Linked DNA regions of Homo sapiens. The protein of the gene in region 1 interacts with the protein of each later gene in a pairwise test. Each region holds a gene or a part of one and is shown on either strand. Other genes may lie near its edges. The genes, in order: CHFR and TRIM9.

Region 1 (3,819 bases):
ACTTAATCTAGTAAACTACTTGGCTCAGCAGTGAATACTTGCATAAGCATAATAATACAAATACAGTATCATGAACTAATGTAATCTGTTAATGTAATGTTGGCAGGGGTGTCTCAGGACAGAGTTTTTCTCTACCTTAATAGATGTCAGGAATGATGTCTAAAATTGATAAATCAAATGTACCATGATAACTTAGAAACACAGAGGTAAATACCAGAAGAAACAGCTCAAAGACATGAAAATAGTTTTCCTCCGAGGAGGGAAATTGGGTGAGGAGCGGCTGAGACGGAGGGTGACTGCCTTTGTTTTCTTCTAAATATATTATGTATACATTTTTTTAAGAGACAGGATCTTGCTTTGTCACCTAGGCCAGAGCGCCGTGGTGCAGTCTTGGCTCACTGCAGCCTCCACCTCCTGGGCTCAGACTGTCCTCCCACCTCAGCCTTCCGAGTAGCTGAGACCACAGGTGCACGCTACCATAGCTGGCTAATTTTTTTTCCCATTTTTTTAGAGATGGGGTTTCATTATATTGCCCAGACTGGTCTTGAACTCCTGGGCTCAAGCGATCTGCCCACCTCAGCCTCCCAAAGTGCTGGGATTACAGTTGTGAGCCATTGCACCTGGCTTCTTCTAAATACTTGGCTTTTTAAATTGTGTACAGTTTCTTTAATTAAAAATAAAAATTAATTGATTACCAACATCTGAGCATTATAGAAAAATAAAAACACCAGAAGAGGGTGGGGCGCGGTAGCTCACACCTGTTACCCTAGTACTTTGGGAGGCCGAGGCGGGTGGATCACGAGGTCAGGAGATTGAGACCATCCTGGCTAACACGGTGAAACCCTGTCTCTACTAAAAATACACAAAATTAGCCGGGCGTGGTGGTGGGCACCTGTAGTCCCAGCTACTCAGGAGGCTGAGGAAGGAGAATGGCATGAACCCGGGAGGCGGAGCTTGCAGTGAGCCGAGATCGCGCCACTGCACTCCAGCCTGGGCGACAGAGCGAGACTCTGTCTCGAAAAAAAAAAGACTGCATGTATTTCCTTCTCGGTTACGACAGTTAGAACACATCCCTTTCTCCTGTGGACGGGGACCTTGACCTGAACCTGCGTGTATTTCCTTCTTGGTTACGACAGAACACATCCCTTTCTCCTGTAGATGGGGACCTTGACCTGAACGGGCAGTTGTTGGTCGCACAACCGCGTAGAAATGCCCAAACCGTCCACGAGGACGTCAGAGCAGCGGCTGGGAAGCCAGACAAGATGGAGGAGACGCTGACATGCATCATCTGCCAGGACCTGCTGCACGACTGCGTGAGGTGCGACCGTGTTCACCCTTGGCTCACGGAACATGGCACTGCAGGTTCTTCGTCCCGTGTGGGGCAGGGCTGGGCATGAGACAAGCCTGCAGGTCCTGTTTGGCCTGGCATCTGCTGAGGTTACTCTGTCACCCAGATAAGTGGGTGGAGTGGGTGGAGTGGGTGGAGCTTTCTCAGCCCACTGCAACCTCTCCCTCCCAGGATTGAGCGGTTCTCTGACCTCAGCCTTCTGAGTTGCTGGGACTACAGGTGCACACCACTATGCCTGGCTGACTTTTTTTTTTTTTTTAATGTTCTAAATATTTTTTATTCCTTTTTTTTTTTTTTTTTTTTTTTTTTTTTAGATGGAGTCTCGCTCTGTCACCAGGCTGGAGTGCAGTGGCACAGTCTTGGCTCACTACAACCTCAGCCTCCCGGGTTCAGACGATTCTCCTACCTCAGCTTCCTGAGCAGCTGGGACTGCAGGCGTGTGCCACCATGCCCGGCTAATTTTTTTGTATTTTTTAGTAGAGACAGGGTTTCACCATGTTGGCCAGGCTAGTCTTGAACTCCTGACTTCAGGTGATCTGCCCACGTTTGCCTCCTAAAGTGCTGGGATTATAGGCGTGAGCCACTACTCCCAGCCACCCTGCTGATTTTTGTGTTTTTTGTAGAGACGGTTTCGCCATGTAGCCCGGGGTGGTTTTTTGTTTTTGTTTTTGTTTTTTGGAGTTAGAGTCTCGCTCTGTCACCCAGGCTGGAGTGTAGTGGTGTGATCTTGGCTCACTGCAACCTCCACCTCCCAGGTTCAAGTGATTCTCCTGCCTCAGCCTCCCAAGTAGCTGGGACTACAGGCATGCGTCACCACATCTGGCTAATTTTTTTGTATTTTTAGTAGAGACGGGAGTTTCACCATATTAGCCAGGCTGGTCTCGAACTCCTGCACTCAGGTAATCTGCCCACCTTGGCCTCCCAAAGTGTTGGGATTACAGACGTGAGCCACCCCGCATGGCTACCACTTTCATTCTACTCGTGGCACCAACAAGGAGGAAACCTGGAACCCAGAGCCGGAGGCTGTAGACCCCACAAGTTTTGAGTGTGTGGGTCGTGTGTGACCCCGTGAACTCTGCAAACAGATGAAAGGAACTCTGCACATTTTAAATGCTCCTTATCTGGGAAGGTGTATTTCGCATAGAATGAACGTAGGAGCCGCTGAGGAAGGGCCTCCTTGCTTTTCCGCGGGAACTCAAGAGTGACAACCTTCCAACTTCTGGGCCAGAAACACTTGCTGTCTCTGTTGTTTGTGTTCCTGAAGTCATAATCTACTCGCCTCTGTCTTTCCTGAAAACACAGAGGCCGTGTGGCCTCTGATTTCTTTTCATTAACCAAGACTGACTTAAAGGGTTTTTAGGTTGAACGATGGCTGGGCCCCTGTAGGCCCTTCCGTGGTGGGGCTGCTGCGGACCTTGGTCGAGGGTCGCGGTTGCATCTGTGGGACTGTCTGGACACTGTTCCTCTTGCACTTTCAGTTTGCAGCCCTGCATGCACACGTTCTGCGCGGCTTGCTACTCGGGCTGGATGGAGCGCTCGTCCCTGTGTCCTACCTGCCGCTGTCCCGTGGAGCGGATCTGTAAAAACCACATCCTCAACAACCTCGTGGAAGCATACCTCATCCAGCATCCAGGCAAGTGAGGGCATCCACACCAGCACCCGGGCACGTGAGGGCGGTCCCTCCACCACCACCCAGGCACGTGAGGGCATCCACCCAGCAGCACCCGGGCACGTGAGGGCTGTCCCTCCACCAGCACCCGGGCACGTGAGGGTGGTCCCTCCACCAGCACCCGGGCACGTGAGGGCATCCACACCAGCACCCAGGCACGTGAGGGCGGTCCCTCCACCACCACCTGGGCACGTGAGGGCATCCACCCAGCAGCACCCGGGCACGTGAGGGCTGTCCCTCCACCAGCACCCGGGCACGTGAGGGCTGTCCCTCCACCAGCACCCGGGCACGTGAGGGTGGTCCCTCCACCAGCACCCGGGCACGTGAGGGTGGTCCCTCCACCAGCACCCAGGCACGTGAGGGCATCCACACCAGCACCCGGGCACGTGAGGGTGGTCCCTCCACCAGCACCTGGGCAAGCGAGGGTGGTCCCTCCACCAGCACCCAGACAAGTGAGGGCGGTCCCTCCACCAGCACCCAGGCAAGTGAGGGCATCCACACACCAGCACCCAGGCATGTGAGGGCGGTCCCTCCACCAGCACCCGGGCACGTGAGGGCATCCACACCAGCACCTGGGCACGTGAGGGCAGTCCCTCCACCAGCACCCGGGCACGTGAGGGCGGTCCGCCCAGACCCCTCCTTCCGCAGCACTGCGCACGCGAGCTCCCAGCAGTGTGAGCTGTGTCTGCCTGCCATGTCTCACTGCCGGTGAATGGCGCTGTGTCCTTTCAATTCTAGACAAGAGTCGCAGTGAAGAAGATGTGCAAAGTATGGATGCCAGAAATAAAATCACTCAAGACAT
Region 2 (3,819 bases), on another chromosome or scaffold:
CCTGATCCATGAAAAAACAAAGCCCTTTTTATATTATTTAGTTTGTTGGGTAAAAAACTGCCCCTCTGCTCTTTCAAAATGAAAAGCACATCTTTTTACCATTTAATAAATCCTCCTCCAATTGATCCTAAACTCTGTAGCTGAATTTTTCATCTTCCAAGTTCAATCTTTTCCTCTAAAGTTTCCACAGTAAGAAGGCTAGCTGTTTTAAAAATGGGGAAAATGTACTTAATTGCAACGGAGAAATCACTGGATTTTGATAAAACTCTGCTCTCACTATTCTATGCACTTCTAACTCTGGTTATGCCAAAAGGTCTTCATTGTGACTTGAGCCCAAATTAAATATAACTAAATGTGTAATGTAATCCATTTGTGAATACATACATCTTATTAATAATTATTAATAATGACATGACGAATGTGTTAAAACTGCCTCCTTTCCTTCTTAGGAGACAAGATCCTTCTCACCTGAGGGAGGGGAGGAGGGATGGTAGGAGTGGGTGTGGTCTCAGAGATACATTGGAATCCCCTGTGGAACTTTTTCAACCATCTCCCTTCCTTAAGATTTGGATACCTGTACCCCATGAGAAATTACATTGTGTGGAGGAAGACTGCCTAGTCTTAAAATGTTCAAAAGTGTGTGACCTACAATTTCCAGTGGTTTCAAGGACTGATCTAGAAAATGTGGTTTTGATGAACACTGGGGGATAAAGAAAGGATCATTTTATTTTCTTTTCTATTTAGTAAGGCCTTTATATGCTAATTCCTAAAACATTTGCAGGATAATGTGCTGACTTAAAAGAATTTTACAAGAATTAAAAAAGCAACTTACTATAAAAAAGGACTAATGGCTGAGTTAAAAACAAAATATAAAAATTATGATCTTACTTTTGGTTAGTTTGCTTTTCTCTGGGATGAATTCACATGCAAAAGAATCGTTTCCTCCCATCTCATGGCTGATTTTTATGTTTTGTTTCTATCAATTATCACTTCAATTCCTATTCATGTGTTAGAGCATAGTGACTATGGAATACCTGGAGTTTTAAAACCGACTCTCATATTCAGCTTGGAAATAAGTTTGTAGAATCTGAATAGGGCTTTAAAAACTTTTAAATGAATCATGCCTTGTGCAACTCTTTTTCAAAACAAATATTCTGAAATCTTTTTACACTACTTTAAATACATTATCATACATTTAAGATTCAACAATACAGCTAGAATAATGCTCTTAAATACACCCATCAAATATCCCAAAACTCACATTTCATTTTATTCTTGAGACAATGTGCATTACAAAGACTGTAACGATATTTCAGTACATTAGACACAAGGGAAAAGAGTTTCATAACAAAGCATGTTGGGAAGCCATAGTGCACAGAAAAACAATAAGAAACATAAAAGCACAAAGAAGAATGTCATTTTAAAGACAGCTTGAAGTCCCTGCATCCTTTTTGCACTGTCATGCTGTGGCCTTCTTCATTCCAGAATGTGGGATGAGCAAAAAGAATAAAATAAAAACCAAAAGAAACCTTTGGAAATATGAAATGTGCATCATGTGTATCCATGATTACAATATAGTCCTGAAGAGATCAAATAGGTCTGCATCTTATATATTTTAACATTCTATTTGCTAGGCAGTGTTCGCTACAAAGGAACACAAGTCTAGCTTTGCTGAAATCAGCCTTAGGCTCTGTCACAACCAGCTTGGCTGTGGGAAACTTCGAGGAGTCCAGACTTTTTGATTACTCAGATCTTTGGTCATTAGGCATTAGGAGTTAAGGGTTTCTAATTCGGCTAGCAGTGATCCCACCCCATTGCTAGGAAAACACTCAGCCATGAGCCCCACTGTCCTAGCAGTGAGCACAGGCTTTTGCAGAAAATGCTTTCACTTTCTGCTCTCTGGATTGCCTGCTTTATAGGATGCTTTCTGCTGTTGGTGTGTTTTTACTTTTATTGTACTTTGTCAATAAAGATCTCTTGAGTCTATGTTTAATCAGACCACTCCAGGCTGGATGCACTGATCCAGTCTCCCAGACACTGCTGGTTTCCTGGATACAGAAGGGCTGCAAACCTCCACATTACTGCCATGGCCGCCACTCAGCCAGCGCCCGTGCCGTGCTATGCCACTGCATGTGATGACAGAGCGGGTTATCCATGGTGGTACCAGCTTGTGCGAAAAGAATAACTTCACTCATCACTTTCTAATGCCGTAATACATGGACCACAGCTCCATGGTTGCTCCTTCCACCACACAAACAAGAACGCCACAAAGCTCCACCATCCCGATGCTCCTCATACGGAAAGCAGGCCACAGACAGAGACTAGCTCATCCCCCTCACCACGCACATGAATGGCAAGAACAAGACACGCGTTTCAGAGATGCCTTCAAGGCACAGAGATCAAGGGGAAAGGTCTGAGGAGCTCAGCTCACCCGGTGCATTGAGAGACTGTAAAGAGGAATGCAAGCTCAGCTGGTGGGGTGAGGATCGGAAATCAAAGTAGGATCTCCCGGGGAAGCTGGGTTGTAGATTAAGGGTGGAGGAGAAAGGACTCATTCTACGGAGCGGCAATCTTTCCGAAGGCACTGGAAAAGGGAGGGTCTGTTCTTCTGAATCTGTGTCTAAATGTAAGATCAATGCAAACTAGAGATCAGAAGTCTGCTATTATGTCCCCGTGCACGGTTCCCCAAGACCTGCCTTAACAATGCATTCATACAAAGCCTCATCTTTCCCACAGGGTGCCACACTCAGGCATTTACAAAACCAATGTGCCTGGGGGCAGGGAGGGAATTTTCGGCAGATCAGGACCCAAGACCAGAGGACACCTCGAACAACAAAGGCAATTGTTGTCACTTTCCCGATTTTTAGTGGTAGAAAATTGGAAGGTTTCCTTTTAATTAAATAAAATACTTTTAGAATTGAATGTACAAAATGTAAAGGCAAATTTTACCTATTGATGACCAAGAGGATATTATTTTACCCCCTTCAGTTGTCCTGGGAGTTACTACCTATTCAACAATGGCCTCTTAAAGGGTTTCTATCTAAGAGATGGTGATTTTTTACAAACTGTTTCCTATTCCATATTTTCCCATTTCTCTCCTAATGTGTATTTTTCTATTAGATGGATGAGCTGATTTTTTATACTAGCACACTCCAGACTCTATCTTTGAATAGGAGAGGAAATGTGGGGTGGTCTAAGGAAGACAGGGCTGGACAAGTAAGCAGGGAAAGAGCCTTACCTTTGTTTCTGAATTATGATCAGACTCTAGGGATGTCACTTGACCATCTTTGTTTCTCTAATGATAAACAGACTGTAGGCAGTGGTGAGGTGCATTGGTGGCAAAATATCTGTTTCTGTTCAGATAGTCAGGTTTGGCCTGAAGATAATTATTATATCAGACTAAAGACTTAACAATTATTTGATCTGGTTTTAGAAGGGCATGAGTTAGTTTCTCTGAATTACTAAAATTGGTCCTTTCTATTTTGTCAAACAATAGCTGGTTCTATGCACGGTGTGGTCTAGTCAGAGGTGGATCTTTCGCCAATTGAAGCCTTCTTAACATTCAGTCTAATAGCAATAATTTAGGAAATACAGATGGTAGGAAGGTAATATGCCATGTCCAAAATCACAAAGGAACTTTCTTCTCATTGAAATAATAATTTTGTTTCTGTGACCAGAGGGTATTTCCGTGAATTTTTTTCTGGTTTGAATCAGTTAGCAGCAATTCTTTGCTGGACATACACTTCTATCAAAATGTTACTCGCATGTTGAAGCAAAAATAACTGGAGCACGTGTGTGTGCAGAATATCATCCTATGTG

Evidence for each region.
Region 2: the proteins of CHFR (region 1) and TRIM9 interact in a two-hybrid assay, tested with the Homo sapiens proteins (one large-scale study listed by BioGRID and IntAct).

Annotation. Positions count from the first base shown.
Region 1 is NC_000012.12:132,856,567-132,860,385, reverse strand, and holds part of CHFR (E3 ubiquitin-protein ligase CHFR), read left to right. Parts: intron 1-1,158; coding exon 1,159-1,318; intron 1,319-2,826; coding exon 2,827-2,981; intron 2,982-3,755; coding exon 3,756-3,819. UniProt on the Homo sapiens protein: E3 ubiquitin-protein ligase that functions in the antephase checkpoint by actively delaying passage into mitosis in response to microtubule poisons.
Region 2 is NC_000014.9:50,983,525-50,987,343, forward strand, and holds part of TRIM9 (E3 ubiquitin-protein ligase TRIM9), read right to left. Parts: intron 2,643-3,819; exon of another isoform or gene 2,621-2,642; coding exon 2,432-2,620; coding exon of another isoform or gene 2,400-2,431; exon of another isoform or gene 1-2,399. UniProt on the Homo sapiens protein: E3 ubiquitin-protein ligase which ubiquitinates itself in cooperation with an E2 enzyme UBE2D2/UBC4 and serves as a targeting signal for proteasomal degradation.